7 linked regions of the Homo sapiens genome follow. The protein of the gene in region 1 purifies or fractionates together with the protein of each later gene. This does not show direct contact. Each region holds a gene or a part of one and is shown in the gene's direction. Other genes may lie near its edges. The genes, in order: IFT57, TRAF7, HOMER1, EXOC7, STX18, IFT172 and EHBP1.

Region 1 (3,500 bases):
AAAAGTACATCAACAATCAGCTTGAGAATTTGGTTCAAGAATATCGTGCAGCTCAAGCCCAGCTGAGTGAGGTAATTTAAGAATGATTTCCAAGGATTTATTCAAGTTAACAACCCTAAACCCTAAACTTGACACAATACTGTTCATTTGAGAATCATGAAATGCTTTTCATGAACAGCAAAACATCAATTTTCTGCCCACTTTAGGAAGCCAAGAGAGCCGAGTGAACTTATTTCCATTTCACATGTAATAGAAGTTGTTTTCTCCTGGAAGTCTTTAAATGCACGTCTTCATTTGATTTAAGTAAATGAAGGCATATGCTGTTGGGGGAACATAGCTTAGAACAGGAACAGAGTATCAGGACACCTGGTTTTGCTTCTATAAGTCTGTTGTTAATTTACCATTGGCGTAGGAGGAAGAAGAATAGTATGCATTTACATGTGTCAAAGGAAAAAGACAGTCCTTGCCATTCTGGCTTACAACCACATAATAAGGAATGTGAAAGCAAGATACATTCAGAGACAAGCAGTTTAATTAATAAAATGAGACAAATTTTTCATTCTTTCAAAGTTTTAGAATTTTAACCAAAAAATAAAATCACTAGACTTTGAAAGCACCAGTTCTTTGTCCCAGCAGTAGGGATCTAAAAGCTTTCCTTTGGGATTTGTGCCCCCTATTTTCTGATGTTAAAGAAGGCTAGTAAGGACAGTTGCAAACATCAGTTGAAGGCATATTTTTTGTCTTCAGCAGACAAAGTTGAGAAAGAGAAAAAAGTAGAAGTAAATTTGAGATACTTCTATACTTTCAGAAGTCCTCAAAGACTAAATAGAAATCTACACTTTTTGATGTTATTTGTTAAATGTATTATTCCTTCATATACACAATTACTTATGAATATTTTAACTATCAAAATGATGTAAAACTCTCTGATCAAAGCCACCATGTATTTGTCTAATATTAATATTATATAATTGATTGTTAGTTTCTGACATACTCCAGTTGAGTGTACTGTCTTACGGGATGTTAATCCTTATTCATCATTGAGCTTCATGCTCTACTTTGATTGATTTTTGGTTTTAGAACGGACTTTCTCTGCGGAGCATGCAAATTAGATTGACCAAGAGCCCCTCTCCTAAACTGTTTAGGAATGACCAAGGACAGTTTTTATTGTGAACCATGCCCATGCGAGGTACACAGTCAGTTTGTGAAGGTTAAGGTAGTTCATCATTTTGTAGTACTTAGTTAAATACATGCTGCCTATTAGGGACATAAAACAGCTACAGTTAAATGTCACTTTCACAAATGTATTCACAAACAAGGAGCAGGGTTGTCATAAAATGACCTGCAGAAATTGCAAACACAAAGAGGTCAGTCGTATTTAATCTGCTGCTGCTTTGAATTTGCCATTAAACAAAATGTTTTTCCTCTCAGGCAAAGGAGCGATACCAGCAGGGAAATGGAGGAGTGACGGAAAGAACCAGACTCCTCTCTGAGGTACACACTGATGCTCTTGCCCTGCTTCTCACCTGTCAGCTGGGCCCCAGCCATTGAGAACCTACAAATGGTTTAACACTGCTAATTTCAGTTGCTTCCTGTGCCTTTAAATCATTTTCTTTAGGAGATAATCCCTAATTTTCCTATGACTGAATCAATAATTGATACATTTCTTGTTTCCACAGGATGCCTGAAGTTTCTGTATTAAATTCAACATAAAACCTGCTCATAATATTAGCACACTTATAATTTTCCTCAACATTTTTTACATAATAATTATTATTAACATGGGGATGAATAGTAAAGCACTGACTTAAGGAATCTATAACAAATTTTAACGTTAGTCTGCAAGATATAAGGTTTATTTTTAGTGACTGTTATTGATAATTTGTGTGTGATCCTGGGTGTATTTCTCTGTCCACAATTGGGAGTGGCTTATAACCTCCTCCTTTAGAATATTTGCATAAAAATAAATAGTTGCATTTATTTTTATGATCTTGCAAGAGAGGTAGGACCTGATATATATTCCCATTTTTCACTGAAGAGCCAAAGGAGGAAAAAACCTTGAAAAAAGGTCAGTAGTTTATTTGGGACTAAAATCCAAGATGATCTTTGGTTACAATCCAGTATAATTGGAACAAACTTTACTGTTTTGACAGGAAAGAATTAAACCTCTTTTATAGAGATTATTTGAGGAATAAAGTTATTTTAAAACACTAAAAATATAACATCAGAAATATTTAGACTGTAATCCTGTGGTGCTTCTAAGCAAATAAAACAGTATGTAGAAGTAAAGTGTTCACTTATGTTAGGTAAATTAACACTTGAAGGGAGTCCAGGGAACCATTTACTTCTTTTGGAGTAGATAGTTATCCCCAGTTGTAACATTTCAGATGCCTGAAAAAATTAATTTGCTTTACTTGGATGAGCACTTTATTCCCAGGGAAAGTTTTACTCACCAGTATGATAAAAATAAAGCCTACTAAGTCACAATAATTATAGCTTAGTTGTAGATCATGTAAAAAATTTTCAATTTCTTAAAGATAGTATTTTCTACTTATATTAATGCTGGTTTGGAATTTTGCTAATAATAGAGGTTATAGTAGTATAATCGCCAGATAGAGTGCAGATAGGAACAAGTGTGACAGCAAAGTATGCCTCCTTGGAGTTCGGAGTTCATGATTTGGATAAAGCAATAAGAATATTCTTATATATAGCCATATGATATAAACATTTTTTAGTGTCCTATAGAGGAAAAAGTGACATAATGTCTTATAGAACTATAATATTAAGAAAGATACCCAGAAAAGCTTTAGAAATCTAAAATCTCTTCAGGATGTTTATACTATTTTAATTAATAACCAGTTATTAGAGAATTTCAAAGTATATGCGATGAGATAATTGCGAGGTTTGAGTGTCTAGTGACTAAAACAACTTTGATTGTGTTTAGTATATTGCAACATGAGAAAACAGATGTGACAGCCATTTGGTGAAGTTTAACATTAGGAGCATTCTGAAAAACTGAAAAGCTTTGTATATCTGCATACTTTATATTATTTGAATTATGTCCAAAATATTCCTAATATCTTTATTTTTCTATATGTGTGGCTAATATCTAAATTACATTTTCTTAACACATAATTCAAAAATTGTGAAAGTTTATTAAAATGTAATGCTCATGAAAACTTGTTTTCATGAAAGGTTATGGAAGAATTAGAAAAGGTAAAACAAGAAATGGAAGAAAAGGGCAGCAGCATGACTGATGGTGGTAAGTACATGCTCATTTTAGGGGAAAAACTGAGCAAGAGAAAAATAGCTCTTCAAGAAACCTACTTAACAAAATAGTATTAATATATAAAACAAATTATTTGTTGCTTGTTTGAAGAGAGATTCATTGTACAAAAATGTCTGATAATCAGCGTACTGTTTTTCTTATAAATCAGCTGAGAAGGGTAGGCTTTTTAACTATAATTTAGAGGTTTTTAACATTCAAACTATTGATTCAA
Region 2 (3,500 bases), on another chromosome or scaffold:
ACACTGCCACCCTTGGCTCTTGGGCAAAGCTCACGACCTGTTTCTGAGAGTCTGAGGCCCACTTGACTTGGGTGAGAGCCAGGAACGCACTCCCCAGCCCAGAGCTGTGAAGCTGGGGTCTCTTCCTGTGCCCCAGGATACTCTCCCCACTCTGGATCCCAGCAGCCTCATCCTCCAGGAAGCCCTCTGGACTTCCCCTCGACTGGGCCAGGTCCCCACACAATAGACAGCCATGAGATACAGGGGAAAAAAGGACTGAGAGATGTTGCCAGCCCCCAAGGGGTCGGAGGGGCAGCAAAAGGCATCCTTACTGTGAAGTTGGGGTAAAGCCTTGGCCGAGCTGTGGGGACCCCCTCCCTGGAGCAGAGGGAGATACGGACGCTGGAGAGGCTTGGCCAGGGCAAGACAGGCCTGGAGGCTGAGTGGATGCAGTAGGAGCAGAGCTGGGGGAGGAGTTCAGAGGCCTCTGCAGAGCTGGGGCTGTGGGTGTTGGGGGCAGGGACAGGCAAGGGGGTTCGCCGTGCTAGGAGGGAAGCGGGGCCAAGCCGGCCTCAGACCAGGGCCTGCTGGGGTTCTGAGGGGATCCTAAGGACCAAGGCTGGCAGAGGCCGGGGCACCCCAGGAGCCTTCGACGTCACACCCTGCCTATTTGGGATGGAAAAAACGTTCTAAGGGACGTCAGGGAACAGCGGCGGAAGTGCGTGTGGCTTTGCTATGGCAACCAGGCCTGTTTCTATAGAATTTAGCGGCCTGGGCTTGGGCCAGGGGGCTGAGGCAGGGGCTGGGCTGGGGCGGGCAGTCTGTGGGTGCCCTGGGCAGGCTCTGTGATGCCAGGGGCCACGCTCGGAGCTCTGGCCGCAGTCCAGCCAGCCGGCCACACACAGCCCTGTGGCAGGCGGGGCGGAGGCTTCTGGAGCCGTCCCAGGCTCCTCCCAGGGCAGTTGCAGGCCTCACAGGCACACCCACCCATGGCTTGCGCCCCACACATGTTCAGGGGACCCCCACACCCCACCTGCTCCGGGTTGCTGGAGGAGCTGCTTTAAGGCCGGGCCTGGCCCGAGCAGGGAGCTGCATCTGGAAGCCCCCATCTCCCCCACTCAGCAGGGCCCCCCAGGCTGCTGCCAAGTGGGCGGGGACCCCTGACCCAGACCCCCTCCAGGTGTGTCTCCAGGGAAAGGGGTGGGTGTCCGCATCCCACATGCCCCCAGGGCGATGCCCCAGCAGAGCCCTCTAAGCCCAGCTTGTGGGAGCTAGGGAGGGGCTCCTGAGGGATTTGCCGAAGAGGGGCTGGGGTGGAGGCAGCGAGGCGCTGAGGAAGACTTCCACTTCCTTATTGCACAGTGGGTGCCCCCAGGGCCCCGGAATCCCTCCTACGTGAATGTGGGGTGGACAAAGACCCTGGGCCTGAATCCCAGATTCAGGCGAGGTCAGGGAGGGGCTGCCCTGCGTTGGCCCCAGCTGGAGGGGACGGTGGGGGGCCAATCCTGCCCTTCCCCTCTGCACGGTGCTGACCCACGCACCTCGCCCCTGAAGGTCAGCACTGGCCTTCCCCAGGGTGGATGCTGCGCTTCCTCAATGACTTTTCTCTTTCAAAGATCGAATACTCCTGGAGCATCCAGCATGGGCAGTGTGGACGGGCAGGTGGTGTGGACGGGCAGGTGGTGTGGACAGGCAGGCGGTGTGGATGGGCGGGCGGTGTGGACGGGCGGGAGGTGTGGACCGGCGGGCGGTGTGGGTGGGCGGGAGGTGCTCGGGCAGGCGGTGTGGATGGGCGGGCGGTGTGGGTGGGCGGGCGGTGCTCGGGCAGGCGTGGTGGGGACATGGAAGGGAGGGGTAGGGGGGCTGATGGGGAAAGCCCTTTCTCAGCCACTAGCTGCCCCCATGGCTTTTCCCGGTTTGGGAAGAGTCTCTCATTCTATGGAACACACCCCCACTTCCCCAGCACTGGGAACTGGAGGGCAGAGAGGCCAGAGAATTGAAGGGGAATTCTCACTCCGGTTGACAACTTCCTGCCCGGCCACCCCCCAGCCTCGATGACTGTGGGGTGGGGAAAGAGGCACTCTCCCTCTGGGGGGCCAGGGCATGCCCCCAGAAAAGCCTCCCAGCCATCAGGGGATGCTGAGCTATTGTGCTTTCCAGTTGTGGCCCAAGGGGTCCTCTCCCTACTGGGGAAACTTACTGCAAAACCCAGTCCCTGGGGACTGGGCTGAGGGGAGGCCTCGGGCATCTTGCTCAATTCCGAGGTGCGGGGATGGATCCTGCCTTAGGGCGGGACACAAACGTTCCCTGGCCTCCAGCCCCAGGGTCCCGCCCGCCTCCATGTCCCTGGCTGGGGCTGAACACTGAACCCGAGTGAACTGGGAAGCAGCCTCCTGTGCAGAGTATCCCCCTCCTTCCCTCCCTCCTTCCGTCCCCCTCCCTCCCTCCGTCCCCCTGCTTCCCTCTGCCCCCTCCCTCCCTCCGTCCCCTCCCTCCTTCCGTCCCCCTCAGCTGGCGCTCGATGGGGTCTTGCGCACACCCCACAGATCCTGTGGTGTTGTCCCCGTGGCCCGGCTGCTGTTGGCCAGCTGGGACTTTCTGGCTGATTTGCACATTGCCCTGCGTGCCTTTCTGTTCACCTCACTTCAGAGTGAGGGGGAAGCCAGACAGTTGCTCTCCCAGACTGTGAGCAACAGGCACTGAGGCCAGCCCGACCCATCCCAGGGGAGTGCCTGCTGGGGTCCTGGCCACCTGGGCCCCCGGGCAGGCATCACTGGCAGGGCTTGCAGCTGGCCCTGGGGCCCCGGAAGCTTGCAGTACAGGGAGCTGATGGGTTTGTAAAATGCAGGTCAGTGTCTCCTAGTGGCTGCCCGGTGATCCCCTCCCTGCTCCCAGAGGGCAGGAGCCAACCTGGGGCTCCCAAAAGGGCTGAACCTCCTGTGCCGAGTCATGGCGCCCTGCACTTCAGGCTATCAGGGCCTTACCCCAGCTGGGACATCCTCACCCCAAGCACAATGGCAAAAGGCAAGCCCTGGCCAGCTCTCCCCGACCTTCCTGCCGGGAGCTGCTGGAGACGGGATAGACATGTGCCAGGGCAGAGCAGCCTTGTAGACACACCACGACCACACCTCTGTCCCAGGGCTGACTCCTCTGAGCCTGGCTGCAGGTGTGTGGCACTGCCCACACTCAGGAGCCCCTGCCTCTTCCACAAGAGAAGTCCCCCGAGAGCCTAGTCTGGGTCACACAGGGCCAAGCCCCTCGAGTCGCAGTGGGGCCTGGGGAAGGCCGAGGGAGGCTTTGGCCAGGCCCCATCTCCCGAGACCATGGGACGCAAAGATCAGGTGGGGCCAGGTAGCTCGTGGCGCTGCCAACTGCAGGGGCTGAGATGTCGGGTTGAGCCCGAGTCCTGAAGGCTGAGTGGCTCCAGGGTGGGTGGCCTTCCAGGTGGCATTGGAAGGGACAGGTGGGCCTGGGCAGCCTAGAGAATGGGAGAGGAGACAGCAGGAGTGGTAGACAGCCCA
Region 3 (3,500 bases), on another chromosome or scaffold:
ATTTTGTCTAGACTGTGGAGTAGTAGCATCATGGAAGAAAATCAGTTTTCCAGAACCTTTAAGCTGCATGAATGCCTGTCATTTTACCAAGGGAAGCTTAGGATGAATTTTTTTTTCCCTGCCTGAGGTTTCTTTGTACAAATAGCACAGGAGGACCCCAGCCCCACAGCCCCATGCAGATGGCAGCCTGGCGGGGGGTCGCACCAGTCCTGTCCTCACGTTGGCAGATAGAGATATCTACTCTGAAGCCTCTGTAGGGGCCTGGGCACCTTTGGGAGCCTGAGCTGGAACTGAAGCTGGAGCTGCAGCCTGGGCCTTGGTTTGATCCTTGTCCTTGGCCTTTGGCCAGCACACCCTGAGCCCCTTGGCAATGCGGGCACGAGCATGCTTCCCAAGCTTGGGGTGGACAGTGTAGGCAAGTTGAGCTTGCGGCTGACACCCTTTGGGATCTTGGGCTTAACCTCCTTGGGCTTTAGGAGGGCCTTGATAGCCTTGGCATGTGCACTCATGGCCTTGGCACTGTTAGCCTGCATCTTCTTTAGGCCCTTCTTGTTGTGTTTCTTGGCAAACTGCATGTTCCTCAGGAACTTGGGGTCCACCCCCTTAAGAGATTCGTATCTTTGTGCTTCGGGTTTCTTGATACCATTTCTGTGCCATTTTTGGGACTGGTTGTGTGTGGTGTGGTTCTTGGACTTGGCCATGTCTGCACCTTAAGGCGCGGCTCCTGAAGCGCCTAGAATCTGAAGAGACAGGATGAATTTAATACTAAGGGGGCTGTTGTTTAAAGTGGGAAAGTTAGCACCACACATAACATGCATTTAGACACTTAGCATAATTAATTTGTTTATAAATGAATGTATCTGCCCTTTAGTTAATAAAGTTCTATATATGGACTGAGGAGAAAAAGGAGCGAGCATTTTGTGGTGCTATTTTTTTTTTTTTGGAAAGCCTGTATTTGGGGCTATGACCCTTTCTCATTGATAGTGACTTGAGTAGAGAGAGGAAGGGTAGATGGAAGTAGAAGAGCATACAGCAAAGGCATTTGCTGACGTTTCCACACTTTATGCGTATTTATGCCTAATAAATGTTTGTGGAATTAGCATAGCTGCCTGGACCTATTTCAAGCAAAAGGAAACAGGGCTTTAAATGGCTTTTAAAGCTTTACCTTGGCAATCCATAATTACCTTACTGTAATAGATATCTAAAATTTAATACTGTGGGTAAAGTGTTTCACATATTACAACCTTCTTTTTTTAAACTAATGTTAGGTTATAATAAGGATTTATCTTCGTCTTAATTGTAGATAATTATTGCAAGTCTAGGGGCAGTCTAAGCAAAGGAATTATTTTTAATAAAATCAGTGATTGGGCAGAAAAAAATTATGGCTCCCCTAATAGTAGTTTATGAACTTTTTGGAAATGGAGAAGAACAGCTGAAACTTGACAGTTGGCAAAGTCTGTCAAAGTATCTTGGATGTTGCATGAACTGTTAATTGCAGTGAAGGCAACTAAAGTATGGGTTTGTAAAATAGGTGTATCAGATCCCCTAAAAATTAAGGCATTCATGTATGTAAAATGAAGTCTCTGAAAAGTTTTGAAGCCTCAGTGAGGAGCCCCTGTTAGGTATGACCCCCACCCCCACCTCCAAATAGTATCTCATAATGACAGCAGTGAGTCAGTAGCTATTTCAGAACTATCACAGTAGGCAACAGAAATCAAGTAACTTCAACCACTTATTTCATGAAACCCTTTGTTTTTACTTAGCTCATTTTGGCAACCTAGTGCCATCAGCAATGGTAAAGAATTCTTTCCCTCCCTTCCCTTATTAAGAGCTACTTATACATAAAATGGGGCTCTCCCTGCTAATGGAATCTGTTAATGCTGTTTCTGATTTATCTCACCTGCCTATGGGAACTTCTGGAGTCCTTCCTTCCCCTCTTTCCCCAAATAACTTCCAGAAGCATGGAAATGAGTGCTGCTACATTGCAGCCCAAACTGAGTCTCTTTGCTGAAAGATGGGAAGCTGACACCTCCTTCTGCCTCAAACTGCAGGGTTCTGCTCTCTAGGGGTTGTAGCAAAAATGTGAAAATCTTGATCCAGCACTATAAATGGGTTTTATTGCAAAGATAACCACCCTATCATATCTGACAATAGACAACTTAGATGCAAGTCCTTAATTCGTCATTTGTTCATTTTACCAACTTTGAACCTTTGTTATAGTGCGTGTACTTACCTCAGTGCTGCTGATAGGAAGGCCAATACAATGTGCTCCTTCCCTTAGTGAGTTTATACTTTGGAAGTTGGGCAGACAGTCAAGCCTAAAATTAAAATGTGCAATGAAATTTTGTAGGAGCTATAATGTAGGGCATTATGGAGACACAAAGTGTGTGTTGGGGGGGCATTAGCTGCTGAGGGAAGGATAAAAAGGCTTTGTAGAGGAGGTGATAGTTGTTAAATACTGAAAGATGAGTACAAGTGAGCCTCTTAGACAAATAAGAGGGCATTCAAGGCAGAGAGAACAGTGATTGACACCACTAAAACGAGGAACTGCAAAGGAGTTTGGCATGACAAGCTTGTTTGCTTGAGCTAGCTCCCTTTGGTGTAGCAAGAGATAGGTCTAGAGCCTTATTATGCAGGGACTGGGTTGGAGAACCATGTAGATCAAATGAAAGATTGGATTATCCTGTAGTTTAGTGTGTTTAGAGGTTTTTTTGGCTATGACCCGTTGGAAAGATAAGCATCTTTACATTGCAACCCAATATGCTTGTATATAAATGATAAAATGTCACTACATAATACCCTTGCTTTGTATGGTACACTCTGGTAGTTTCTATTCTGTTCCGTTCTATTTTATTTTTAAGATAGACTGATGATGGTGACCCACTCAATTTATTTAATGACGCTGTGTTAGCAACTGGTAATTTGAAAAGCACTTCTCTTCTGTGTGAAGATTACTAAAGGGTTTTAAGCAGAGTAAGAACATGATCAGGGAAGTAGAATAAGAAAGCAATTTTAAAAATCATTTACAATTTGGTTTTGTGTCTTGTATCCTGTGGAAACACCAAGCCAGAACAATGAACTCTGGCTGGGTAGAGGAAGTGGACAGTTGGGCAGGCCCTGGAAGGTTCCGAAGTGGGGAGGGGAGGGATGGTGACTGAGAGATGTGTAGTTGGCTGAACGGGGCTTTTTCAGAATTAGGACATTTCATTGGAGAGGTAAGAATGTAGCAAAGAGCATGGTATGTTCTTAGCAGAGTCACTAACTATGGGTCATAAAATAGTGAATTTGGGAGTTAAGGGGTTGACAGAAGAAACTGTCCTTATTCATAGTTTATAGTTTTGAGTGATTAAACATCTCAGAAGAAAAGGTGGTTATATCCCAAAAGGTCTAACCTCTCTACTGCCATGTGATTTTTTTTTTTTTCAGTCTTTAGTGTTTAGTTGAAGTATTTATTTTTAGTTACTGGATTGTTATTTCAGATTAATATGACTAACTGGACA
Region 4 (3,500 bases), on another chromosome or scaffold:
TTCTCCCCGGCATCATATCCCTTATAGTCTGTGCTCCAGGTAAACAGTGTCTCTGCCAGCCACAGCTTGGCAAGCCCGGCTATGTCTGGCCACTGAGAGATGCTGCCCGCAGCTCGATGATGTGCTGGGATGTTCTGGGGTGGGGCTGCTGAGATTGCACTGAAAAAGAAAGCTGGAGAAGCCGGGGCTGCTCCCACCCAGGCTGGCCCCCTGTCCAGCTGCTGCTGTGGGCACATGCCCTAGTTGTGGCCTGTGGCACCTGCTTATGACAACAAGCTTTGGGTAGAGCTTACTTACACCCTTGGTTTCTCCAGTCCCTGCCTGCTCATGCCCCTCAGAGAGTGAGGTGTCTGTTCCACAAGAGCACCCGCTCCCCTGCAGGCCTTTGTTTAGGGTTTGGAGAAACAGGCAGAGCAGGGGCTGCCCTCAGGGAGTAGAGCATTAGGGAGCTGGTGCCTGGGGCCTTCTCCCTCCAGTGTGGAAATCCTGCCCACCAGCCAAAACCTGCTGCAAATGGGGACTGCCAGCCCAGCCTGTGGGCGCAGCTGCCTGCACAGTGGATGGAGCAGCTCTGTGCCTTCTGTGTGGTGGGGAGTGGCTGTCTCTATGAGGCTGCTAGGATGCTTGGGCCCCAGCCAGTCTGTGCTTGCTTCCTCTTCTGCCTGGCTCCCTGACAGGTCCCCCAGAAGCCCCAGAGCCCTATTTGCACTGCCTTAAGAGTGCCCGCTGGCCATGCAGCTACCTGGCCTTTCAGGCAGGAGGGATCTGATCTCAGGTGGCTCACAGTGGACCACATCCATCCTTGGGCCAGAGACACTAGAGGAAAACTCCAGCTGTGGGGTTTCAGAGTTGTCAGGAACTGGTGGGCTCAGGACCGATGTCAGGCTCTAGGGAGTCAGGCTCTGGGGATGTCGGTTCCCACTTCTGAGGAGAGGGACAGGGAGGCCTCCCAGGTGGTGAAGCACCGACCTCAGCATCCCTGGAGGCAATTGGGAGCCTGACGGGTTTGGCGGCTGCTAGATCCACATCGGCGACCCACATCCTGCCGGCGTGCACCTGCGTCTGTGTCTGCTCCTGGTGGGTTGTGGGGCAGGAATCAGATTCACTCATTAGTAAGCCGCACTCGCTGAAGGGGAGAGCATGAGCAAGGGAGACGTGAGCCAGGCCTTGGTTATTAGGAGCTAATTATGGGCCAAGTATGGTGGCTCACGCCTGTAATCCTAGCACTTCGGGAGGCCGAGGCGGGCGGATCACCTGAGGTCAGGAGTTCGAGACCAGCCTGGCCAACATGGTGAAACCCTGTCTCTACTAAAAATAGAAAAAAAATTAGTTGGGTGTGGTGACGCACGCCTATAATCCCAGCTACCTGGGAGGCTGAGGCAGGAGAATCACTTGAACCCAGGAGGCAGAGGTTGCAGTGAGCCGAGGTCGTGCCACCGTACTCCAGCCTGGGCGACAGAGTGAGACTGTCTCAAAAAAAAAAAAAAAAAAAAAAACAAGCTAATTGTGGTGTTGTGCGGTGCGGTGCGGTGCAGGTGTAAGCAGTGAGCCTCCAGACACTGCCCCTTTCTCCCTCAGCTTTCTGGGGAGCTGCCAGGACACAGCAGCCTCACTGTGCTCAGATAGACTGTGGGGGTGGGAGGCATCCCGGGTGCCTTTCTGCCCCTATACATTTTGTTAACAAGGCAGCTGCACTTGTCTGCTTGAGATGCGAGTTGATTTCCCGACGTCTTCTGGCCCGAGATGTCTCATTCCCACAAAGGAGGCTGACCCAGGCGGCTGTGGGTGCTGCCATTTTGTTCTCATTGTTTTCACTTGTGATACTAACTATTGTTTTTCTCCCCCATGCCAAGAGCATGTGCCCTCTCCTTCCGTGCACACCCTCCAGGCGCTCTGTGTGGTGGCTTCTGTTAACCCCTTCTTGACTTTTGGATTTTTTCTTGTCGCTTTGGTGGTTTGGGGAACTCTGGTGTGGGGCTAGGCTGCCTCTGGGTCTCTGAGCCGTCCGCCTTGGGCACAGCGCTCCCCCGGAAGTTCAGTCAGGGTGGCTTCCTGCTGGCTGCTGTTTGGCGTACGTCCCAACACTGAGCATGCTCGGAGAACTCTGCCTGGAGTTTGGGGCTGGGCTGGGGGCCTGCTGGCTTCAGGGTGCCCCCCAGGCTCTCCCACCCTGGTTGTGCCCTCTGGGTATGCGAGCTTTGTCACGGGCTCCTCCGACCTGAGCCCTCGCCTGTTCTGATTATGATGCCACTCCATATTTTTGACTTCTCCTGGTGGATCTTGGTCCATCTTCATTACCCTCTGTCCTTTCAGAAATGAGCTGAAATCCAGAACAAGGAGGGTCGGTAGTAGAATCAAGGCTCCATTTGGAGAAGGAAATGACTCCTTTCCTTCATCCTTGTCCCCAGCGTCTCTGGTGGTCTCAGGGAAAGGCCTGCTCACTGTTGGGGAGCTGGGTGCGGGGCCTGGGGGGCAGGTGGAGGGCCGCTGCTGTTTTCTCTCACTCATTTCCTAGGTCTTCTTATCTCCTCTCTGTGTGGCTCTGGTGACAGGGACGATCCGTAAGGCTCAGAACCTTCTGAAACAGTATTCCCAGCATGGTCTAGATGGGAAAAAGGGGGGCTCTAACCTCATTCCTCTGGAAGGTAATCACCCTGTGTTCCCCTCCTGTCCCTTCCTCCTCCACTGTGTGTCCACGCACTTGGCAGGGCAGAGCCTCCCCCAGGAGGGCCTCGGGAGAAACCCTGAGGGGAGCAGGGTGGGAACGGCAGGTCCCCGATGCCACTCGGGCTTCAGCGGGCACAGGGACAGTTTCGCAGCCCTCGGCCTGGTCCTCTCTGGCTGATGGCAGCTCTGCCCTCCCTGAGGCTTCCCTCCTCCCTTCCCTGTCTCTGTCCTTGTCTCCTGTGTGAACTCAGAAAAAGTTATTTGTCTTGGGGCAGCCCTTTCACGCTCAGACCAGCAGTGGCAGGCCCCAGCTGGCCGAGGCCTCCCGGCCTTCCCATCTTTAGAAAGGGGAGTGTGTGCAGCAGAGGACAGGCAAACTGGGGCTTTCCCCAAATACAGCGAGGTGGGGAACCCCCCTGGGGCCAAGCATCAGCTCTTCAGCCCCTCCTTGGTCCTTCTCCGCTTTCCCTGGGCCTCCAGGCTCGGGGAAATGAGCAGCTAAGGACGGTCCTGGGTGCTCACTGAAGTCAGGCTTGAAACGGCTGTTCCCAAGGTGGCTTGAGGTAGAGGAGGGGCTCAGGGCCCTCTCCGATGCCCCCTTCCCCATCCCCATCTGACGTCCCCCTCCTGGAGATGAAGGGCTTCTTCCCTGTACCCCAAGGGGCGGCCTGCCTGGCCCCTGGATAAACGCTGCTTGTGTTTGTGCGGCCGACATCTCGCCAGGTCACGAGCATGATTTCCGAGTTAAGCACCTGTCCGAGGCCTTGAACGACAAGCACGGGCCGCTGGCCGGTGAGTACCGCAGCCCAGCCCGAGGGCAGCCGCTGACACTG
Region 5 (3,500 bases), on another chromosome or scaffold:
ACCAGAAGTGTTTTGGATTTAGGGTTTTTTCAAATTTTTGCATATTTGCATTGTCCTTACCAGTTGAGCATCTCTAATCTGAAAACTAAAATCTGGAAAGCTCCAATGAGTATTTCCTTTGGGTGTCACATTGGAGCTCAATAAGTTTCAGGGATGTGATTCCTGCCCTCAGGGAGCTCACAGTTGATGGGAAAGATAAGGCTCTAGCCCCTGGGAGAAAGTAAGTAGTACCTCAAGAGAGAGCAGAGGGCCAGGGAGACTTCAAGAGGAGGTGGCACTAAGAAGTGAGTCTGGGCCAGGCGCAGTGGTTCACACCTGTAATCCCAGCACTTTGGGAGGCCAAGGCGGGTTGGATCACCTGAGGTCAGGACATCAAGACCAGCCTAACATGGAAAAACCCCATCTCTACTAAAAATACAAAATTAGCCAGGTGTGGTGGCACACGCCTGTAATCCCAGCTACTGGGGAGGCTGAGGCAGGAGAATCACTTGAACCTGGGAGGCGGAAGTTGCAGTGAGCCAAGATCGTGCCATTGCACTCCAGCCTGGGCAACAAGAGCGAAATTCCGTCTCAAAAAAAAAAAAAAAAAAAAAAAAAAGTGAGTCTGGACCTGAAAAAATAAAAAATGAAAGCTTAGAAAGTTCTAGACAGAGGCAGCAGCATGAGCAAATGCTCAGAGGCCAGAAAGCCTGGAGATTGGGTGGGATATAGTCAGTAAAGAAGACCCGTGGGGATCAGTGAAGCCCATCAGTGGGAGGAGAGGTGGGAGTAAGCTTGGAAGGGTGGGTAGGGCCTTGAATGCCAGAGTAGGGAGTCTGGACTTGCCTCTGTGGCACCAGGGTGCACGGGTGGCCTGGGCAGAGGACTGGCATGGTGGGTGCTGTGCTTCAGGCTGATCCTTAGGGCAGCCTATCAAGAAGGCTTCTGATGGCCACAAATGAGCATGTTGTAGAGTGTGAGTTCTGCTAAGAAAACTTTCCCATTCTAGCTCAGAGTTAATTTATGCTTGGTTCAGATATGAACAAGGTTTCTGTTTCTAATTTTGATGTTTTTTTCCTTAAAAAAGAAATCAACAACAGTAAAAGCTTGAAATGGATACCATAATGAGGACAAGTAGGAGACAGCTCATAAGGTGGGGGTGGGGGGTAGATGAAAGTACAAATGTTCCTACCCAAAGAATGTCATCTCAGGAAAATATCAGATCATTTCTAAAGATACTTTTAGCCAACCTTTTACAAACACATGTTTTTCTATAATGACACTTCTGGTAAAAACAGCCATTTTTCTAAAAGCCTGCATGCACTAAGTTGTGGATGACATGCAGTTTTTTTTGTAAAGATATATTTCTAATAAATAACCATAACTTTCAGGCATGGCCTGCCTAGTGAGCTTTCTCTACATTGTTGCTATCATTACGTTCTCTTCCCCTATTTAAAGATCTGGACTTGTTGCCATCTCATGGGGCTGAGACTGACTACAGGAAATTTACTGAGATTGAGGAAAAAAGGAAAAAGAAGCAGTATTTGCCTTTGAGTACTTGGAAGCTCACTGATAAGCCCTGAGACACAGACACAAAGTGACTTCATTACAGTCTCCCCCGAGGATCCATCCCTGCCATCCCTCTCCCCTCCGCTCCCAACCCTACCCCGGTGATGAACTGCACAGACCTCTTACCGTCATCCTGGGCGGCAGCAGTCCTTTCTAGGGGCCTGTGGTATTGACATGCTTCAATGGAGGATGCATCACCTTTCCTTGATCATAATGAAAAAGTTCTCCAGATTAAAATGTTCCTACGCTCCCTTTCAGCAGTTGCATGCCCAGGTATCTGTCCTAGAGAGTCACTCCAGCATGTGCACATAGCACAGACCGGGACACAGTACCATGACACCAGTGAACAGTCTGAAACCACTGAGGTCTGTCAGCGTAGTTATGGCTAAAGACCAGTGTATCCTCACGATGGAATATCATGCAGCAATTTAAAAGAACAAGGTAGATCTACTTGGACCATCTCCAAGATGTATCAATAAATCATACAAAGCAAGTTTTAGAACAGCATGTTACTATTGATATCTGTGTGAAAAGCAAGCCGCCATACACACAAAACTGTGTATTACTTGAATTTCATGGGTAGACAGGGACTCATATATCTTTGTATGTGAATATCTTTAGATAAAATCTATGAAGCTACATCAAAGCAGTAACATCTGGGAGAGGAATAGGATTGGAGAACAGTATATCACTTCCTGTATATATATATATATGTATGTATATATGCATATGTATTTTTTACAATAAAAATATGTCTTACAGTCTTTAAAAGTAGACAGGGGTGTATGTGTCTTGAAGTAAAACATACTTTAAGACTCATTCTGAAGAATTCTGAAGACATTCTGAATAATGTCCATTTAGTTTGCAGCCATTGCTGACATCAGTGCGATACTGAAACCGTGCATAGGTCCCCCTCCCCATCACACACACACATGCACGTGCCTGCACAAAGACAATTTAAAGCCTAAATGTTGTGAAAGAATCATGTCTGCAGTGCCTGAATATTAGCCCAAAGATCATGAAATATATAGACAAAGCTGTAAGATTCTGTTTAATCTCTTGTTTGTGTTATGACTACATCCTAAGCCAGCCTATTCTAAAACACATATTTGGTCTTCTATTTTCAATTTTTTTTTTAACAGAAAAAATTTTGGCTGAAACACAACCTGAATTGGGAACGTGGGGAGATGGCAAAGGCGAAGATGAGTTATCCCCAGAAGAAATACAAATGGTAATGCTATTCTCTGCCTAATTATTTATTTTTAACTGGTTTTCATAAGACTGTTTCACTAAGGAGAAACTCATCCTCAATGCCCTTGCCCTTATTTTTATACTGAGTTTTAAAAATTATAAATGTGTATTTTATATACACTTTCCCATTTGATTTCCTAATTCTTACGGTGCTTTTCATATGCTTTAAATTTGCAGTAGCATAATTAAAGAAGACATTTTGCCTTGGAAGAATTTTACTAATAATAGATGTCTTTTCAACAACAGTAAAATAGTCTTCTAGACTAAATGGGTCTTTTATAAATGCCACTATGATGCTTTTTAATTGTTTGAATTGCTAGTGCTATGGTAATGTGAAAAAAGTAAGATAATGACTGAAAAGTGAAAAGAGTAACACCTTAACTACTGATAGCACCTCCTTTTAGTTACCTGCCTTCTGGTTTCCAGCTGCTATAGCTTACCATCTATGGGTGGGTTTCAAAAGGAACTGATAGGTCTGCCAAGCCCCTGCCAGCTCACGTCCAGCAATGTCTGTGTGCAGCTCATCTGGACACTGGTGTGACAGAAGCCAGATGGAATATGCTATCTGTGTGTGGGAATAGATGTCACCTAGAGCTGCTAGGATGTGACACTGTCCTCTAAGACGTGGGGAATGTGACTACCACACGGCACGCCTCCAGTGACTGTGCCTGGCAAGTGATAGCATTTTAAGTGTGCAGCAG
Region 6 (3,500 bases), on another chromosome or scaffold:
CCAGAATTGGGCAAAGCGATAAAGCAGGAGGATCAGCAAAGATTGATGAGGAGCCCTCAGGCCTTCTAACCTAATATAATGAAGAGTTAGAGGATCATAGTGATGGTGGTGTGGCTATTTTCTGGTTTGAGGATTTGCAGGAAAATAGACTTTTTACTTCTGACTTTGGAGATAGGTGAGTTTGGAGTGTAAAGTGTCAATGTTTGAAGCCAGAACTCTAGTGTCCAAATAATTAAACAATTGGGGCAGAAGAAAAGCAGAATAAAATGTTTTGTTTTCAAGGAAGGAAACCCTTAGTAGCAGAGCTAGTCCCTTAGGACCAGAGCTAGTGTTGGAAGGGTCAGATCTGGTCAGAATAATTCACCTGGAGATAACTTCTAACTTGGGTTTCTCTGAAGTGGGTAGTTAAGAAGAAAAGAAAGTGGGATTATTCGTCCTGAGTCTCAACTCGTACTCGCCCATCCTGAACTCTCACTGTCTCTCCCTTTCCTTTCAAATAAGCCCAAACTCCTTTGCCTGGCTTCAAAGACTTCCTGAGCTGGCCTGTTTTTCCTGCCTTACCCCGTCTATTCTACTATTTATAAGGTATAATAGTTTCAAATAAACTAAATTACTGTTTCTTGTCCAGAATTTGCCTTTGCTCATTGCCATTCCTCCCATCTCAGATAACTTCCTACTCAACTGCATTCATTCTTCAAAGCTTAATTTTGATAATTTAAGCATAAAATTCTCTCAGGCTTCTCCAAACTATTGTAGTACTTTATACATACTTTAATAGGACTTTTCTATTTTGCACCATCTTATTAGACGTGGAGGCAGGATCTATGGTTTGCTTTTTGTCTCTCTCTCAGCCCCTGGCCAAGTGCCTTGATCAATAAGGTGCTAAAAAAATATTAATTGAATGAATGGCTAATGACCAAAACTTACCAGACTAATTGAATTTATTTCAGTAGCAGACCTGGAAACGAGGAGGCCGTTGCAGGGATTCATTGATACAGTTGACTTAGCACCCTGCCTCTTAGTGCATTTGCATATGAGTCTCTAGAAGCCTGTTGTTCTCACAGTCCAGGATCTGAAGGCCTTGGAGACCAGCATGGGCCACAGGCATCTCTTTGTTTTGAGGATAGAACCGTGACAGGAAGAAAATTGACCAGTATTACACTAGAATTAATGAAGCTAGAAATGCTTTTGGCATTCTAGACCAGCACATGGGTTTGTTTTTACCCCTTTGCCTCTACAGGATGGAGCTGCAAAGGTGACCTGCATGGCTTGGTCCCAGAACAATGCCAAATTTGCTGTCTGCACAGTGGACCGAGTGGTCTTGCTGTATGATGAACATGGAGAACGGAGAGATAAATTCTCCACCAAACCAGCTGACATGAAGGTAAACAGTGTATTCATGTGTACCTTATTTAACCTATTGATGGGGTCTCACAACTTGAAAGACGTAGTCTGCCTTCTAGCCATCAGCATAGGAAATGGCATACCCCACCTTTTTCTCAGTATAAATCCTCAAGCTCCCTTAGGAGCACACATATGCCTTTTTTTCTCTTTTCTCTTTCATGTGTACTCATTACTTCTTTTTCTTTCTTTTTTTTTTTTTAAACTCTTAGTATGGCAGGAAGAGCTATATGGTGAAGGGCATGGCTTTTTCTCCTGATTCCACTAAAATTGCCATAGGACAGACTGACAACATCATCTATGTCTACAAGATTGGAGAAGATTGGTGAGGATAGAGACTGGGAGATGGGATGGCCCAGGAAAGAAGGGGAAGGCAAGAGAAATGCCTCACTGGGGAGGGGAAATACAGGGGATGAGAAGCCAAGCTTGGCCATTGAAGGCAGAGACTTTCTGGAGTCTGTTTTTGCTTTTCTGCCTTCACCTGTCCCACGTGTTCTTCAATCCCATCCCTGGAGGAAACAGTCCAAGGTCAACAGGAGGCCCTGTGAGATCCTGGAAGCCCAGAGTGATGTCACATCTTTGTTATTGTTCTGAAGCTGCTTAGGCTCCCTCATATACCTCCTTTCAGGGCTCCTACAGAGTAGTCAGAAATACTACTGGGCCAGGGAAGAAATCTGCTCTTTCTTCTCTTCCCTCAGCATCATTTTTGGCAATTTGTTTATGGAAGTGGTATTTATTTATTTATTTATTTTGAGATAGAGTCTCACTCTGTCACCCAGGCTGGAGTGCAGTGGCGCGATTGTGGCTCACTGCAAGCTCCTCCTCCCAGGTTCACGCAATTCTCCTGCCTCAGCCTCCCGAGTAGCTGGGACTACAGGCGCCCACCACCACACCCGGCTAATTTTTTGTATTTTTAGTAGAGACGGGGTTTCACTGTGTTAGCCAGGATGGTCTCGATCTCCTGACCTCATGATCCTCCCGCCTCGGCCTCCCAAAGTGCTGGGATTACAGGCATGAGCCACCACGCCCGGCCTGGAAGTGGTTTTTAATATGTTTCCCCTTCTTTTGTTTGGCAGGGGTGACAAGAAAGTCATCTGCAACAAGTTCATCCAGACGGTAAAGTTCAGACCAGTCCCTGGAACCTTAGGATGAACAAACATATATCAGTATATCTACTTATAAATACAGCCAGGAGTTGCATTTCTAACATCTGAATGTGACTTTTCCTACTGCAAGGATGGTGCTTCATGGCTGTTCATGGTCATCTGCTGTCTTCCTTAGAGCCCTGCTGTGTCCTTCCCTATAGGAGATTGAGGTGGTGGTGTGTGGTGGGGTGTTGAAGTTGTTATAAAAGTGCTGGCCCACACAGATGGGGTTATCCTTTTCATTGTTTCCTTCCACGCAGAGTGCTGTCACTTGTCTGCAATGGCCGGCAGAATACATCATTGTCTTTGGACTGGCTGAAGGGAAGGTAAAAGAGGGAAGGGAAACACAAGAGAGGGGGTGGTAGGGATAATGGTTCTGGAGAGAGGAATATGGTTCATCCTCTTTCTTAGGATCAAGTTGCGTACTGGGGAGAATGCATAGGGACCAGTTTTGTGGGACAGTTTTTCCTTTTTTTCTTAGGGCCTAGTTAAATATAAAATAGCCTAACCATACTTGTATCAATTTTTCCATTTTCAGGTTCGTTTAGCAAACACCAAAACTAATAAATCATCTACCATCTATGGGACAGAGTCTTACGTGGTGTCCCTGACAACAAAGTGAGTAAAGAGGAGTAGTATCACTAGAGTCTGGAAGTGTTAGGAAAATGCTGTGGGGAAGTCTGGACTGCAAGACCATAGTATGAAAGGCAGGAGAACTGGTAGCAGGAAGCACAGACAAGGTTGTGTTTGACAGAGAAAGGGGCTTTCTTGGTGAGATAAAATAGTCTCTTCCTGTATTTCTCTCCTTTCTCCTTTTTTAGTTGCTCTGGGAAAGGAATTCTCTCTGGTCATGCAGATGGTACCATCGTTAGGTATTTCTTTGATGATGAAGGCTCTGGAGAGTCACAGGTATGAATAAAGAATGTTGTGGGAGGCTTGGATTGCTTGAGTCCA
Region 7 (3,500 bases), on another chromosome or scaffold:
TGTTTTTTACCCTTTTTCTCCTGAGGTGTTTTTCATAGCAGGAGTTTCATTCTACTGAACTAAGTTGTAGGATCCCTCAAGCTAACAAACATCTTTTAGATACTTTTCCTATAGTTTTTTTTGTTCCAGATTATTTAATGCCCCCTCAAGAAAGATAAATTCATTTCTGCACACATTGGGGTGGGCTTTTAGAAAGTGGTATGTTCATTTTCTGCACAAGAAATGGATCTTCTCTAGGATTTTGTACATCTTGATTTATTCCTGGCTTAGAGTTTGAAGTGGGCGCTCTTCTAAAGGGATTTATGCATAGGTTCACTATTTTTGTAGTTATGGTTTATATGATAAGCTTTTTATATTTAAAATCAATATGTAATCCTGTGGAGGAGCTTATCCCCTAAAACCCCATTTGTAAATCTATTTTAGCTTTGTTACACAGTACAGCCACAGTCTTCCATAGATTGATTAGGTACAGCGGTAGAATCCTATCAAATGGCCTGTTCTGATGATGATGCAAACTCTTTCAGGATTGCTAGTTGACTGGAACTAAAGATAAGACTTGACTGCAATCCCCCAATGTGCTCTTTACAAAACTAGTGTTAATTTTCATCAAAGTGCCAGGCTTATTTATAGTGGCAAGGTTGAAGGTTTACTACAAGAACTTTAGGTCCTTTCTGTTAAAGTGTTTATAGGTATTTCTCTTGCCTTTTTTCAAGGTAATTATCAACTTCAGCAAATAAACTGAATCAGGGAGTGAATAATTGGCCCTATATATAAAAAAGAGTTTTTTAAACTAACAAAACAGCTCAGTGCAGATGGACATAAACAGAATCTCTTTATTTCAACACTTTGGCTCAAATGCAGCATCAAAACTTAATCCTATTTGTTACAAGAGGATATGGCTTTTGTAGCAAAAGTACACTGGAATCTTTAAATTAATCAGAACCCACATTGTAGTTTGTCCAAGCCAAAGTCAGTGCAGTTAGGCTTGAACATGCGAATGTGAATCTTGATCAATTTTAAATGTAATATTACATTTTTTAAAAAAGATAAAAATAGTTTACTTAATTTCTCAAATTAGCATTCAAATATATATGTATATGTATACATATGTATGAGTTTGTGTACATATATATTATATAATTTATTCCCATTATGAGAAAACAAACGTGAAGTAAAAGTATAGTTTGCTAATGTAAAATCTATTCACTGCACATTGCTATTTCCTGTACAGTTGACTAATATTTTGTAGACAGATATTAATGTAGCACTGTAATGACAGATTTAATATTTTAAAAACCTATAAATTTATGCTGGGATATTTTAAATTCTAATGTCATTTAAATTTGACTCTGAAATGATGAAAATTACCTAAATATTCTTAATTTTTAAATGATTTCATTACAGTTATAGAAAATGTCATTACTGAGCTAGGGAAAAGTTAAGATATTTTAAATTACTCAATACTTCAAAGGTTAAAATTTTCTTTAATGTCCTCTCTTATCCATTTTGTTAAAGTCCTAATTTTTTCAATATTAATGAAATCTTGGTATTTTTAATTACTAATTAAAGCCTTAAAAGCAACTGGTCAAGTTCAGAGAAGGAATAATTAAGAAAATTATATGTGTTGTTAAAATTTATGTTTTCTTGGTTTAATTTTTTTAATATAATTTTCAATTTAATTCTATTTTTGAAAATGTATTCAATTGTAAAGCTGTTAGCAAAATGGTTTCGAAGTAAATAATTATAAATCAAAGCTTATAATCAGAATGATTTCTTGAGGTTGGAAGTGAAAAAAATTAACATTCATTAAACTAGTAATCTTAATATAAAATTTAGTCTCAAATCTATTACACATTTAGGTTTTTTTCTGAAATAATATTTCTAGAATTATAGTTACCTGAAATTAGACTAGATGACCTTTAAGATCTTTCCAACCTGGAGAGCCTATTAATTTACCTGCTGAATAAGACTGATTTAAGAACAAGAACCAGATTAAAAAATTTTCCAGCATTCCTCTCCTCAGTTGCATTTAAATCCAAAGAATAAAATTGTGATATATATGGCTGCTCTTCAATTTTGCTGTTTATTATTTTTTAAATTATTATATTCAAAGAAACCCTTTCCAAATAGTTTCTGTATTCATCTCCATGCTATAGAATATTTCATTTTTAAAATAAAAATGTAATAGTGATCAGTTATTTAAAGTATTTGTGTGGTTTTATATCGAATGTGGATAATTAACATATAGCATGTTTCATATAAATATGTATGTATGTGTTAGAGCTTATAATGAAAGAAATAGTGATAAATTGAATAAAACAGTCTAGCTTTTTGCTGCTTTTCTAACCTTTATTGCATGATGATGCATCTAATTTTTAATTTGTAAATACAAGATAGAATTCCCTCTAGCACCATTTGCTTTCATAAAGCTGCTGAGCAGTTTGCTGTCTTGAATAAATTTTGCTTTGGAGGGGGTCGGGGGGGATTTGAACCAGCACATTCTTGTGTGGTTTGTGAAGATTCACATGGTAACCAGCGGTGTGCATTGTTAGGTTTATCTGAATAAGCACCAGCCATGTGAGTTTTAACATGATTGCCCAGGGCAATGGAGAGAGAAGAGAGAAACCCAAAAGGATTGCACTTCTCTCTGTTTTTTGGAAAGTGCATTTGCTGGGGGAGGGGGCTGCAGGAGTCAGTGGCCATGGTTCTTTTTTTTTTTTTTTTTTTTTTTTTTTTTTTTTTTTTTTTTTTTTTTTTTTAAGCTGGTGTCCTGTTTCCCTCTAGGTCCTCATTTGTTCTGCTATCTGCCTCATCATCTACTTCTTCTTTTCATTGTTTACCTTCCTAATGAGGGAGGCGGGGTAGACTGGGGGTTGATTGACAGCTACAAGCCCTTACAGTCTGGCCAGAGAGCAGTTGGCTTTGGTTTCAAAAGTGTTTTAAATGTTCGATTTGGTCCTGTTTCTATTAAATGAAACTGCTGCTCATCTTAAGGAAATCATCAGACCAGCAAAGATTAGGAAATATATTATTGGGGTCTAAAACCTTCAAAAAAAAAAAAAAAAAACGCCCCCCATCCATGGAAAGAGCACTGCCCATCGGGTTTTCCAACCTTTAACATAGGGTTTCAGAAAGAAATATGTAATTTTTCCTTTGCAAAAGTGCTTTGATTTGAAACCACCCAGCAAACGTCTCCAAAAGAAAACTGGCTGTGATGCGATCGAGAGCTGCAGTGTAATATTGCAGAGCAAATTTATTTTTTACTTCAAAGAAAAATGCTAATTAGCCGATTCACTACTTTTAAAGTTATTGTGAAGCATATGGCGCCCAGTGTGAGATACATCCAACTGCTAAAATAGAGCGAAGAGGAAATTAGCGAAGAATGGGCTGTTTGGGGTGAGAGTGGGGGTGGGGGAGGAGGATAGGTTCTCAGGCAGATTCTCTAGCCTTTTCAGAATGATTTTATCGCCCATCACTGTTTCCCGCCTCCTCATTTACCC

Evidence for each region.
Region 2: the proteins of IFT57 (region 1) and TRAF7 purify together in Homo sapiens (affinity purification with mass spectrometry; 4 studies listed by BioGRID and IntAct, with this or other methods). This does not show direct contact.
Region 3: the proteins of IFT57 (region 1) and HOMER1 purify together in Homo sapiens (affinity purification with mass spectrometry; 4 studies listed by BioGRID and IntAct, with this or other methods). This does not show direct contact.
Region 4: the proteins of IFT57 (region 1) and EXOC7 purify together in Homo sapiens (affinity purification with mass spectrometry; 4 studies listed by BioGRID and IntAct, with this or other methods). This does not show direct contact.
Region 5: the proteins of IFT57 (region 1) and STX18 purify together in Homo sapiens (affinity purification with mass spectrometry; 4 studies listed by BioGRID and IntAct, with this or other methods). This does not show direct contact.
Region 6: the proteins of IFT57 (region 1) and IFT172 purify together in Homo sapiens (affinity purification with mass spectrometry; 5 studies listed by BioGRID and IntAct, with this or other methods). This does not show direct contact.
Region 7: the proteins of IFT57 (region 1) and EHBP1 purify together in Homo sapiens (affinity purification with mass spectrometry; 4 studies listed by BioGRID and IntAct, with this or other methods). This does not show direct contact.

Annotation. Positions count from the first base shown.
Region 1 is NC_000003.12:108,163,425-108,166,924, reverse strand, and holds part of IFT57 (intraflagellar transport protein 57 homolog), read left to right. Parts: coding exon 1-71; intron 72-1,431; coding exon 1,432-1,494; intron 1,495-3,195; coding exon 3,196-3,262; intron 3,263-3,500. UniProt on the Homo sapiens protein: Required for the formation of cilia. Plays an indirect role in sonic hedgehog signaling, cilia being required for all activity of the hedgehog pathway.
Region 2 is NC_000016.10:2,158,782-2,162,281, forward strand, and holds part of TRAF7 (E3 ubiquitin-protein ligase TRAF7), read left to right. Parts: intron 1-3,500. UniProt on the Homo sapiens protein: E3 ubiquitin and SUMO-protein ligase that plays a role in different biological processes such as innate immunity, inflammation or apoptosis. Potentiates MAP3K3-mediated activation of JUN/AP1 and DDIT3 transcriptional regulators.
Region 3 is NC_000005.10:79,507,635-79,511,134, reverse strand, and holds part of HOMER1 (homer protein homolog 1), read left to right. Parts: intron 1-117; exon of another isoform or gene 118-748; intron 749-3,500. UniProt on the Homo sapiens protein: Postsynaptic density scaffolding protein. Binds and cross-links cytoplasmic regions of GRM1, GRM5, ITPR1, DNM3, RYR1, RYR2, SHANK1 and SHANK3.
Region 4 is NC_000017.11:76,090,288-76,093,787, reverse strand, and holds part of EXOC7 (exocyst complex component 7), read left to right. Parts: intron 1-2,552; coding exon 2,553-2,645; intron 2,646-3,306; coding exon of another isoform or gene 3,307-3,459; intron 3,460-3,500. UniProt on the Homo sapiens protein: Component of the exocyst complex involved in the docking of exocytic vesicles with fusion sites on the plasma membrane.
Region 5 is NC_000004.12:4,434,049-4,437,548, reverse strand, and holds part of STX18 (syntaxin-18), read left to right. Parts: intron 1-2,690; coding exon 2,691-2,779; intron 2,780-3,500. UniProt on the Homo sapiens protein: Syntaxin that may be involved in targeting and fusion of Golgi-derived retrograde transport vesicles with the ER.
Region 6 is NC_000002.12:27,483,244-27,486,743, reverse strand, and holds part of IFT172 (intraflagellar transport protein 172 homolog), read left to right. Parts: intron 1-501; exon of another isoform or gene 502-585; intron 586-1,240; coding exon 1,241-1,384; intron 1,385-1,613; coding exon 1,614-1,726; intron 1,727-2,477; coding exon 2,478-2,517; intron 2,518-2,577; exon of another isoform or gene 2,578-2,716; intron 2,717-2,806; coding exon 2,807-2,872; intron 2,873-3,084; coding exon 3,085-3,164; intron 3,165-3,367; coding exon 3,368-3,455; intron 3,456-3,500. UniProt on the Homo sapiens protein: Required for the maintenance and formation of cilia. Plays an indirect role in hedgehog (Hh) signaling, cilia being required for all activity of the hedgehog pathway.
Region 7 is NC_000002.12:63,041,213-63,044,712, forward strand, and holds part of EHBP1 (EH domain-binding protein 1), read left to right. Parts: intron 1-2,709; exon of another isoform or gene 2,710-3,500. UniProt on the Homo sapiens protein: May play a role in actin reorganization. Links clathrin-mediated endocytosis to the actin cytoskeleton. May act as Rab effector protein and play a role in vesicle trafficking.